Homo sapiens: one gene and its partners. The protein of the gene in region 1 purifies or fractionates together with the protein of each later gene. This does not show direct contact. Each region holds a gene or a part of one and is shown on either strand. Other genes may lie near its edges.

The links.
Region 2: the proteins of DHCR7 (region 1) and DHCR24 purify together in Homo sapiens (co-immunoprecipitation; one study listed by IntAct). This does not show direct contact.
Region 3: the proteins of DHCR7 (region 1) and IDH3A purify together in Homo sapiens (affinity purification with mass spectrometry, with the first as the bait; one large-scale study listed by BioGRID). This does not show direct contact.

What each region holds. Positions count from the first base shown.
Region 1 is NC_000011.10:71,441,666-71,446,881, reverse strand, and holds part of DHCR7 (7-dehydrocholesterol reductase), read left to right. Parts: intron 1-1,923; 5' UTR 1,924-1,929; coding exon 1,930-2,027; intron 2,028-2,595; exon of another isoform or gene 2,596-2,666; coding exon 2,667-2,889; coding exon of another isoform or gene 2,890-2,925; intron 2,926-4,528; coding exon 4,529-4,619; intron 4,620-5,216. UniProt on the Homo sapiens protein: Oxidoreductase that catalyzes the last step of the cholesterol synthesis pathway, which transforms cholesta-5,7-dien-3beta-ol (7-dehydrocholesterol,7-DHC) into cholesterol by reducing the C7-C8 double bond of its sterol core.
Region 2 is NC_000001.11:54,852,696-54,856,195, reverse strand, and holds part of DHCR24 (delta(24)-sterol reductase precursor), read left to right. Parts: intron 1-1,961; coding exon 1,962-2,159; intron 2,160-2,583; coding exon 2,584-2,762; intron 2,763-3,500. UniProt on the Homo sapiens protein: Catalyzes the reduction of the delta-24 double bond of sterol intermediates during cholesterol biosynthesis.
Region 3 is NC_000015.10:78,166,362-78,169,403, forward strand, and holds part of IDH3A (isocitrate dehydrogenase [NAD] subunit alpha, mitochondrial precursor), read left to right. Parts: intron 1-1,106; exon of another isoform or gene 1,107-2,014; coding exon of another isoform or gene 2,015-2,124; exon of another isoform or gene 2,125-2,560; coding exon 2,561-2,644; 3' UTR 2,645-3,042. Other genes in the region: long-chain-fatty-acid--CoA ligase ACSBG1, read right to left, coding at 2,015-2,124. UniProt on the Homo sapiens protein: Catalytic subunit of the enzyme which catalyzes the decarboxylation of isocitrate (ICT) into alpha-ketoglutarate.

The sequences.
Region 1 (5,216 bases):
TTTTACAGATATAAGGAGAGTGACTGGCACTCGCCAGGCTCTGTATTCAGTATTTGGGGCCGGAGAGAGACACGGTCTCTTCCTATCAAGAACTCTTCGTCTTGTTTTGTGCATCATAGGAACTGCATAAACTAACTTGTGTAAATTGAATGAAGTGCGGGTACTGAAGTTCTCACACTGCATAAGGAAAATGTCTTTCATCGTTGAAATTTTTTAAATGTGTGTGAATTTTTATTAAAGTAATTCATGCACACATTTTTTTAAAAATCAGTGTTAAAAGGCTTCAGAAGAAATACTCTCTACCACATCCCACATCCGACAGTCTTGCTTGCCAGCAGCAAACACTTTTCATTCTTTCAGCTACTTTTGTGTTGTTGTTTGTACCTACTTGTTTCTAAGTAATTTCCTTTTAGTACCCCTAACTTTGCAAATTCCCTTCTGTGCATACAATAGTCAATAAATAGTCAGAGTATACATTGTTATGACAAAATTACCATTATTCACTGTTGAGCCAAGTAAGGTCCTATAATAATGGCTTGGTTTCTTTTTTTCCTTCCTTATATGACTTTTTATTTTTCCTGGAGTTAACAGTTGCCTTCCTTTTTTTTTTTTTTTTTTTTTCATTTGGTAAGGTTTCTATGCATCTCTCATTCATTTTTTTCTGGATGCTCTAACCGAGCTGTCACATATATCAATAATTTTCCTACACATTCAGATGCAACAAAATTCATCATTTTCATTTCCTCTCTTTCCTAGCCATTCATCTTGTACCAATGTGGACTGGTTTCTGGTTAGTCCTGCTGCATAGCTGTCCTCTTGGGACTTGCCCCTGCCCTTTTGTGGACATGGCTTCAGCAGCTCTCTTGGGTCTCCAGTTTCCTGGATCCTATGTTGTTGTCCTTGAGTAATAGTTCACATAGGAGTAGAATTCTAGGTTGCAAAAAGTTTTCCTCAAAATTTTGAAGTTTTTCATCATTGTCTTCTAGAATCCAGCTTGCTGTTGAGAAATCTAAGCCTACTGTGATTTTTACTCCTGTTTTTTCTCTAAAAGCTTTCAAGAGCATCTTTTAAAAAATCTCAGATATTTTAAAGCTTCACAGTTATGAACTTGTTCTGGAAGTGGGGATGTCACTGCTTCCCCCAAATTATAACCATGTAGAGCAGCTGTGGGTACCTAGAGACATTCTGTGTTCTCTTCCCCTTTTTTTTGAAGGGTGATTATTGATGGTCCTACATGGGCCACTGTTCTAGGCCCTGGTAGTAGAACAATGAAGAGGACACACAATTCCTGCCCTTGGGAAGCTTACATTCTAGTGAGGGGAGACAGACAATACACACACACAAATGAATACTTCTAGGCGATGGGGAGAGTTACTAAGAAAATAAAGTACCCAGTGGAGGGCCTTGGCAGGGAAGCTGGGGAGCAGCTGCTTCAGATTGGCTGAGAGGGAAGATCTCCCCAGGAGGGGACATTTTACATGAGCCCTGAACAAGGACACCTGCAAACGTGCTCTAAGCAGAGGAAGTCAGTGCCACAGACAATTTAAACTGTGTTCAAGGATGAGTGAAGACCCCTGTGTTCCTGGAGCCAAAGGAGAATAGGGGAGAGTGGTGTGTAGGAGGGAGGCAGGAGCCAGCTTGTGCTGTAAGAGGGGGGGCATTCTGCCATGTTTGGAGAATGAACTGAGACTAGCAAGAGCAGCCATAGCAAGGTCACGTGGGAGGTGATTGCAGGGTCCAAGGAAGAGAGTCTAAGACAAGATGATCTCTTCCCTGCCTGGAATCTGCTGTCAGGAACAAGGTACCGGGAAGATGTGCACAGGAGGCCAGCCCTGCCAGGCCCAGGAGCAGTGGTGGATGCAACAGGGAAAGGTGGTGTCTGTTATTTGAGGGATAATGTAAGCAAGGTTCTCTTTCTTGCAGGGCCCAATGGCTGCAAAATCGCAACCCAACATTCCCAAAGCCAAGAGTCTAGATGGCGTCACCAATGACAGAACCGCATCTCAAGGGCAGTGGGGCCGTGCCTGGTAAGGATCTTGCCTGTTCTCCCAGCTAGAAAGTAAAGTGTGGTCTCAGAGCTTTCCAGCCTTTGGAATTGTATGGACCCAAAGGAATGAAGGACCTTTTTAAAAAAGATTTTTTTTTTTTTGTCAAGACTAATGAAAGGTAAACAGTTTTCCACTTTATAAAGTAAGGAATTATAAAAAGAAACTAGAAATCATGGTCAGTCAACAACTTAGAAAAAAAGATAAAGGCTTAAAGGGCAGCTGGGGCCTTCCCACCATCTGGGGGTATGACCTATTGTCACAGCTCCCATTTCGCCATAGAACCATGGGGACTTCGTGCAGGGTGAGTATCCTCTCCGACCTGGAACTGGGGAAACCACTGGCCTTGGTGGTTGTGAAAGACCTACCTCCGCTCATATTCTGAGCTCTGGGCCTTCCATGGGGGCCACAGATAGTGCCACCAGTTAATCAACTACAGTAGAGCAGGCATGTTGAGTGGCTTCCCTGGCCGCAAGGAGGGCCCGTGCTAGGAGCTAATGCCTTCTGTCATGGGGTACTGGTGGGTTTGAGCAACAGTTCTCCCACACAGAGCCTCTTAGGGTCCTGGTGGGGCCCAGGGCAGATGGGCCCCAGTGTGACTGCCTGCATCCGTCCTCGCAGGGAGGTGGACTGGTTTTCACTGGCGAGCGTCATCTTCCTACTGCTGTTCGCCCCCTTCATCGTCTACTACTTCATCATGGCTTGTGACCAGTACAGCTGCGCCCTGACTGGCCCTGTGGTGGACATCGTCACCGGACATGCTCGGCTCTCGGACATCTGGGCCAAGACTCCACCTATAACGAGGAAAGCCGCCCAGCTCTATACCTTGTGGGTCACCTTCCAGGTCAGCAGCCCCTGCCCTGGGGTTGGGACACAGCAGGTGGGGAGCGTGCCCTCCTGCTGGGGTAGTCCTTCCATTTGTCTGGGACATGGATCCTGGCTCAGGTTGACATCTGGGTTCCCGGGACCCAGCAGGGCATTCCCTGGACTCTGACATGTTCAGATTCATCCTCAGCTGTAAGGCAGGAGGCACCTGTCACATCAGCGTTTGATACACCTTCACGGCATGCCTGCATGCAGTTGCTGGGCACGCCCAGCTCTGCAGGGACAAGCTGAGGATAGGAGCAAAACCCCGTGGGAGGGCAGTGCTGTCCTGAGGAAGCCCCATTGTCAGCAGGAGTCACGCCTTGCACCAGGTCTGGAAAGGAGCATCTCAGTCCCCAAAGGGACTCTCTCAGTCATGAGATGCCACTCAGAGAAGCGAGGGCCATGTTTCCCCACAGGCAGTCGAGGCAGGTCCAGGACGTCCTCAGCTCCATGGTGTCCCCACTGGCCTCCCAGTCCAGAGGGAGTTCCAGGAAGGGGTTGTTGTAAACCTGGTGCACACATGGGTGGTGCTGATTGCCTGAACCCAGGAAAAGGTTTCCAGGGAAACGGTGCTAGAAAGAGACAGGCCTGGGTTTTCCTTCCTGGGCGGGAGGAAGGCTCAGATCATGATTAGCTGTTTCTCCCCAGGGTCCAAGCTTCTGGGCTCCAGAATACTTCTCAGTTCAGATCTCTTGGTCCCTTTGAGTGAAAAATGACAGGGGCAGTGTGAATCACAAATAGCCACAAAGCAGGAACCCCCACCTGTCCATCAGTAGATGAATGGACCCACAGAACAGAACACTGTGCCCACTGTGGGACACTATTTGGCAGCGGAAGGGAATGAAGCTCTGATGCCAGTAGGCGGATGACCCTTGAAGACACTGCTGAGCGAGAGAAGCCAGTCACAGAGGCTGCATACTGTGTGGTTCCCTTTATATGCAATACCCAGTACAGGCAAATCCACAGAGGCAGAAAGCTCAGTGGCAGCCAGGGGCGGCAGGGACAGGGAATTCAGAGTGACCGGAGATTGGAACAACATTTTCTTCTGTGGTGATGAAAAGTTCTGGAATTAGCAGTGATAGGTGTACAACCAACCATGTAAATGCGCTAAATGCCGCTGAATTGTGCACTTTAAAAGGGTGAATTTTAGCCGGGTGTGGTGGTGCACACCTGTAATCCCAGCTACTTGGGAGGCTGAGGTGGAAGGATCACTTGAGCTCAGGAGGACAACGCTGCGGTGAGCTATGATTGCACCACTACACTCCAGCCTGGGTGGTAGAACAAGACCTCATCTCAAAGATAGATTTATATATATATATAAAAAGTTGAATTTTATGGGATTCTCCATTTTAAAAAGGTGACTGGGAGGGACCTGTGCGCTCTCCTGAGGGGCGAATGGAGCCCTGGGGGAGAACGCCTTGGCACCTTCCCTGGTTGATGAGTTTATTGTCTCAGAACCCCCTTCAAAACCCACAGCCCAGCAGTTTGAGCTTCCAGGAGCCATAAGTGCTTCAGGAAGAAAAAGACTATGATTGTGATTCTCATGTTCCTGCTATGCGTCCCCCTTTGCAGGTGCCCTCCAGGCGGGGGGTGATCAGGCTGCTTGTGTGTTTCAGGTGCTTCTGTACACGTCTCTCCCTGACTTCTGCCATAAGTTTCTACCCGGCTACGTAGGAGGCATCCAGGAGGGGGCCGTGACTCCTGCAGGTAGCCTCCTCCCTTCCACCCTCCCCAGGCTCCCGTTCTCATCCCTTTCTCTCAGGGGCCAGTCCTCCCCAGCGCTGCTTTGTCCCTAAGACTTGTCACAGGATAGAAATCCATTTTGCTTGGATTTTTCACAGCACCAGGCCTCAAAACCATTGAGGGCAGCTGGGGCCATCCCACACCCAGGTTAGAAATCACTTTCCTGGGTAAGGAGGGAATGGATGGCCCAGCTCCTTCCCAGCCCCATAGCAGGGGATGCACTCGGCCCATGAAGCTTCCTGCAGAGACCACCATGCAGAGACCACCATTCCTCGGGGCTGTCCGTGGGAGACCTTGTCTGTTCATTCCTTGCCATCATTGAGAACCCACGAGGAGCCTGGCTTTGTGCCTCTCACGTGGGTGCAGACTGGAACCGCATCCCAACTCTGCCCCCAGAAGCTCCCTGTTTTGAGGGGTGGATGGGCTGAGGTGCTCCCCAACAATTACAGAGGGGGCCAGGCATACCACAGGGGCATCCTCACTTGCTTCTGCCCCTCAGCCCTGACCTCCCTATCAGACTGCACACCTGTCACTCAGCCTATGGCCAGTTAACGAGATGCA
Region 2 (3,500 bases), on another chromosome or scaffold:
AGGAACACACAACCAGAGGGTGGGCCGAATTTGTGGACCCCTGCAGCACACATTAGACACCCACAACCGAAGGCAGTAGTGCCCTCTGTATTGATACAGGATACAGTGATGAGCCAGTGGTGCTAAGATGCCACCATTTATGAGGTTTTTTTGCTTTCTGTTTTTTCAAAGCTCCTCTGCTTCTCCGTATCAGATGTCCCCCAAAGGGTAGGCAAATCATTCTTACCAATGCTTGCCATTAGGGAGGGGGAGGAGAGTTGAGGGTGGGTGGGGAGCCAGGTCAGGTCATTGCTGGGAGGGAAACAGGGTCAGGAATGCGCAGGGAGGCTTAACTTTTGTACTATGGGGATTTCTGCTGTGGGCATGTGTAGGTCTTCCAAAGGTAACCAAGGAAACAATAAAAGCCAGGCTATTTATTGAGATCCTGTTGCATGCCAGACATTGGCAAAGGCGCAGGATCTAACAGAAGAAAACAGGCAGGTCCCTGACTTCATGGGAGTGGTCCGGCAGCTCCAGAGGAGTGAGGGAAAGGGTCACTCAGCCTTCAGTGCTTACACACATGGCTGCTTTGGGGAGTCACCGTGCCCCCTAGTCTGATGTGGACCCTTTCATGAGCTGCCCCAGCCTCTGTTTGTCCCCACTCTTCCCACACTCATCCAGTGGCCTGTGTCTTCCACACCTGCGGTTGTGGGTGTCTTAAGGACAGAGACCATGTCTCAGTTATCTTGGTTCCCCAGCACCCAGCATAGAACCTGGTTCCTGACCTCGGAGGCCCCTTGGAACTGTTTTTTTTTTTTTTTTGGAGACGGAGTCTCACTCTGTCGCCCACACTGGAGTGCAGTGGCACAATCTCGGCTCACTGCAAGCTCCGCCTCCTGGGTTCACGCCATTCTCCTGCCTCAGCCTCCTGAGTAGCTGGGACTACAGGCGCCCGCCACCATGCCCGGCTAATTTTTTGTATTTTTAGTAGAAACGGGGTTTCACCGTGTTAGCCAGGATAGTCTCGATCTCCTGACCTCATGATCCATCTGCCTCGGCCTCCCAAAGTGCTGGGATTACAGGCATGAGCCACCGTGCCTGGCCAGAACTGTTTAATGAATGGAGGAGCAGCCTTGGCTTCAAGGGCTCCCAGAGCTGTGAGAATCGGGCATCAGTGGACACTGGGGACCCTCAGGAACATGGTAGGACTCAAGCAGGGAGGAGGATTGTGACCCAGGGGCCAAAGTCTTCTCTGTTGGAGGTGGGCAGAGCTGGAGGGAAGAGGGGGCCATCGTCAGGAGGCAGCAGTGCTGAGTGAGGAAGCTCCCGCCTCGTGGCAGTCTGAGGCGTGGAAGAGAACAGCTTCTGCGCAGGAGGGTTTCCAGGGAGACCGAATTGGGGGAGCCAGGCGGGTGGTCAGGCTGTGAGCAAGGGATGCTGCAAACCAGTGGGCTCCTTGTCGAACCTGAGCCAGACTGCACCCACCCCATGAGCGCTGTCTCTGGCTGTGTGCCCCTAGGGAGACTGCTTAAATTCTCTAAGAATCACTATGCTCATTCAACAGCATTCGTTTCTCAAACATTTATGGAATGCCAGCTCTATTCCAGCCAGATCTCAACAGCTAGATCAGGAATGATAGCTAGCTCATTATTGCACTCCAGGCATGGGGTTGAGTGCCTTCCACTTGGTATTAATATCTCATTATCCTCACAAGGCCCATTTTACAGATAAGGAAACTGAGCTCAAAGAAGTTAAGTAACTAGCCCGGGGTCATCACTACTGGCGAATGCCAGAGCTGAGAAGCAAACCTAGATTGGACTGGTAAAGTCCTAGGTCCCATCACACCCCCTCCAAAGAGGGGAATTGGACTCAGGCGTGCTTCTGTCAAGCACAGAATGGGACCTGGCCCCTGGCCCCTTGCACTTGGAGACATTCAACCCTTGTTGGTTTTTTTCTCTCCAACCCTAATCTTTGTTTTCCAGGACATTATCCCCTTTGGCAACAACCCCATCTTCCGCTACCTCTTTGGCTGGATGGTGCCTCCCAAGATCTCCCTCCTGAAGCTGACCCAGGGTGAGACCCTGCGCAAGCTGTACGAGCAGCACCACGTGGTGCAGGACATGCTGGTGCCCATGAAGTGCCTGCAGCAGGCCCTGCACACCTTCCAAAACGACATCCACGTGAGTGGGGCAGGGCAGGGAGGGCGCACCAGGTGCATTCCCTTGGAATCCATGGTCTCCTCCCCTGAACCGTGTGACCGACCTTGGGCACACTGCCCTCTGGGTGTTTTCCCAACTTTAAGATGAGGTCCTTGTCCCTATGTCTGCTGAGGCCTCAACCCACTCAGTGATGGCCCCCCTGGGAGAGGAGTCATAGGGTCTGGCATCGAGCACTCCCATGACCTGCTCCGATTGTGTCCTCCAAGGTGGTGGAGTCAGGGTGTTCTCAGCCAGGGCTGGGGGGCGGGGCAGTGAAGCTGAGAGCACCTGAGGGGGTCTTGAGAATGCTGCAAAGCCTTCATTTGGGTGGGTATGAGCGGGCCAGCCATGAGCCTGTCACCTGTTGGAGAAAAAGCACCAATACCCACCTCCCTGGTCTACCCAGGTCTACCCCATCTGGCTGTGTCCGTTCATCCTGCCCAGCCAGCCAGGCCTAGTGCACCCCAAAGGAAATGAGGCAGAGCTCTACATCGACATTGGAGCATATGGGGAGCCGCGTGTGAAACACTTTGAAGCCAGGTCCTGCATGAGGCAGCTGGAGAAGTTTGTCCGCAGCGTGCATGGGTGAGTGGCCCAGAGTATAGTATGTTGCCTCTAGCTGACAGCCCCAGGGTACTGCTCCAGGGGAATGAGGCCAGCTCTATGGAGAACCAGGAGCCCCAAGCCTATCAACTGGTTCCTTAGGGCCCCTGCAGCTGTGGCAGCCTCTGGGTCAGGAGGTAAGCTGTGAAAGATGGGCAGGGGGTGGGCTTGCAGGACTACTTGCCCTCTTCTCCCTGCACCCCCTCCTCCAGTGAACATGTCACACCCCCCCAGCAGCCCCAGCCAGAAACCTGGGAGTCACCCCACTCCTCCCCACGGAACAGATGATGGGTGTGGGCTTAGCTGGGTCCAGGGGCAACTGCTCCAGATGGAAAGGCCAAAGCTAAGGAGAGAGGGATTCCTGTCTATGAAAACCACGGAGAGGCCCAGGACAGAGGATTGCTCAGAAAACAGCCTGGATAAACTATTGAGTGGAACATGGACAAAGCCAGGAAAAAACAATGCCATATGATTCCTTTCATATAAAATTCCCAAAAACACACATGAATCCATACTGATAGCGCATCAGTAGTTGCCTGGGGATGGCAGAGGGCAACGGATAACTAAGGGGCATGGGGAAAGTTTGGGGCTGATGGTTATAGCCACGATCTGGACTGCAGTGATTGGAGTCCTTGGTTGCATGCATGTGTCAAGCTTATCCAATTGTGTACTTTAAATTATGTCTAGTTTATTGAAAGTCAATAACAGATTAAAGGAAAA
Region 3 (3,042 bases), on another chromosome or scaffold:
CTGAGTGAAAGGGACAGTGACAGATAATAGTTCTCAGGCGGGCCCAAGCATTTGATGTTGAACAAGGATTCTTAACGTGGGTCCCAGATTGAACAGGGTATGTGTGCACATGTGTGCATTTTCTGAGGTGAGGATCTAGATATTTCATCCAAAAAAAGTTAAGCAGCACTGATGTATAGACATCAGTGTACAGTGGAAAGGTCAGTGGTTTGGGAGGCAGCATCAGGTGCACGCCCAATTATCCTATTGTTAGCTGTGTGACCTTGGCCAAGTTCATTGATTTTTTTTGAGACAGAGTCTTGCTCTGTCACCCAGGCTGGGGTGCAGTGTCATAATCTTGGCTCACTGCAACCTGCACCTCCCGGGTTCAAGCAGTTCTCCTGCCTCAGCCTCCCTAGTAGCTGGGATTACAGGCGTGTGCCACCACACCCAGCTAATTTTTGTATTTTTAGTAGAGATGGGGTTTCACCATGCTGGCCAGGTTGGTCTCGAACTCCTGAGCTCAAGTGATCCTCCCGCCCCAGCCTCCCAAAGTGCTGGGATTACAGGCATGAGCCACCACACCCGGCCAAGTTCATTGATTTTTATAGACAACTTTTTACTCTTCACAACAAACGTCTGTTGAGTGTACCTTATAAGGTGTGAAGAGTAAAATGATGAATAGGGTAAGATGCTGAGCCTCAAGGAGCTGGGAATCTAGTGGCAGATACAGATGCAGATGTACCTCTAATACAATAGTCTTATATGTTACACTGTGTGCATCTATAATACAAAAGCAATACAGAAGTTTTATAAAAGTAATAACTAATATTAATTGAATACTTATGCAACTTTTAAGTTCTTTATATATCATCTCAGCAAAGTTTTTCTATAACTCTTTGAAGTAGATGCTATAATTCCATTTTATAGATGAGGAAACTGAGGTACAGAGAGAATAAATAATATGTCCAAGGTTTTACAGCTCCTAAATGACCCAAGTTGGTATTAACACGCAGTCTGGGCCTTACCCAACAAGCTCCACCGCCTCGGTAAGCAATTGTGGCCTGTGGAAGAAGTGTCGCGGGCTATTCCGAAGTTAGAGGAAATAATGCACTTGAAGACTCATCCCTAATTTGAGGTCCTTTTTAACAAAAATTGTGAAAAATATGCATAACATAAAATTTGCCATTTTAGCCGTATTTAGGTATACAGTTCAATAATGTTAAGTACATTCACATTGTAATGTAACCATCACCATCAGTCATCTCCAGACCAGTTTCATTTTCTCAAACTGAGACTCTGCACCCGTTAAACAGTAACTTTCCCTTCCCCCTCCCATCCTCTGACACCTGCCATTCTGCTTCCTGTCTCTATGAATTTGACTACTCTAGGTACCTCATGTAAGTGGAATCATACAGTATTTGTCCTTTGAGTCTGGCTTATTTCACTTAGCGTAATATCTTCAAAGTTGGTCCCTTCTTTTAAAAAAATTCTGTAATTTGAAATTATATCGTGTGGCCAAAATACAAGAAATTCAGGCTTGTTTTTAACAGCCTGATAGTCACATTGGAGGTCATATGATTTTCTTATTCTTTAAAGTTATATTTGGGAAGTTATAATCTACAGCCCAGTAGAGAGGTGCCTGAATTACATAGTGGGCCCTTTTATTGTGTAGGATGGAAAGATAAAGAGAATTAAATATATTGGGGTCTGTATGCAGGAAAGAAAGGATAAGCTGGTAGAACAGATCAGTTGTATGGGAGGCTTTCTTTCCTAAAGAGGGAGGTTTAAGAGTTAATGATTTAGGCAGGTGTGGTGGTGCATGCCTGTAGTTGCAGCTATAGGCTGAGGCAGGAGGATCACCTTAGCCTCTGAGTTCAAGACCAGCCTGGGCCACATAGTGAGACCCCGTCTCTTAAAAAAAAAAAAAAGAGTTAATGATTTAAATATTTCTTTCGTATTTGTGTCCCAGCCTCCAAAAATAGATCAGATACAAAAATTAGTTGGGTATGGTGGCATGCACTTGTAATTCCAGCTATTCAGGACGCTGAGGCAGGAGAATCGCTTGAACCCAGGAGGCAGAGGTTGTGGTGAGCTGGGATCGTGCCACTGCACTCCAGCCTGGGCAACAGAGTGAGACTCCATCTAAAAAAAAAATAATAATAAAAACAAAAATAGATCAAAATATGTCTCAGGTCTATTCCTGAGACATATTTCCCAAGGATTTTTATGAAACTTCTTATTTAGATTCGCTTTTATTTAAATATCCATGACCAACTAATCTGGGTTAGGGTCTATTGTGTGAACAAAGGGAAAATTTTGGTAAAGCTCCCTGCCTCCCTTTGCATCAAGAGCACCTTATTCTTTGCAGAGTGCTGTTGTATACACTATGAGATTGGATCCCGATCCTCCTGGGCTGGGTAGATGGTGGTGGAGTGGTTCCTCACTTTGAAATGAGGAACTAAATGAAAGAGCAGCCGAGTAACTTGCCCAGGTGGCATCTCACTGAGGGCTTTAAAATCTCCTTGGTTTAGTTTAGTTTGCGGATACATCTTTTATTTTTGCTTTTTCCTTTTCTCAGAGCTTGACAAAAGATTTGGGAGGCAATGCAAAATGCTCAGACTTCACAGAGGAAATCTGTCGCCGAGTAAAAGATTTAGATTAACACTTCTACAACTGGCATTTACATCAGTCACTCTAAATGGACACCACATGAACCTCTGTTTAGAATACCTACGTATGTATGCATTGGTTTGCTTGTTTCTTGACAGTACATTTTTAGATCTGGCCTTTTCTTAACAAAATCTGTGCAAAAGATGCAGGTGGATGTCCCTAGGTCTGTTTTCAAAGAACTTTTTCCAAGTGCTTGTTTTATTTATTAAGTGTCTACCTGGTAAATGTTTTTTTTGTAAACTCTGAGTGGACTGTATCATTTGCTATTCTAAACCATTTTACACTTAAGTTAAAATAGTTTCTCTTCAGCTGTAAATAACAGGATACAGAATTAACAAGAGAAAATGTCTAACTTTTTAAGAAAAACCTTATTTTCTTCGGTTTTTGAAA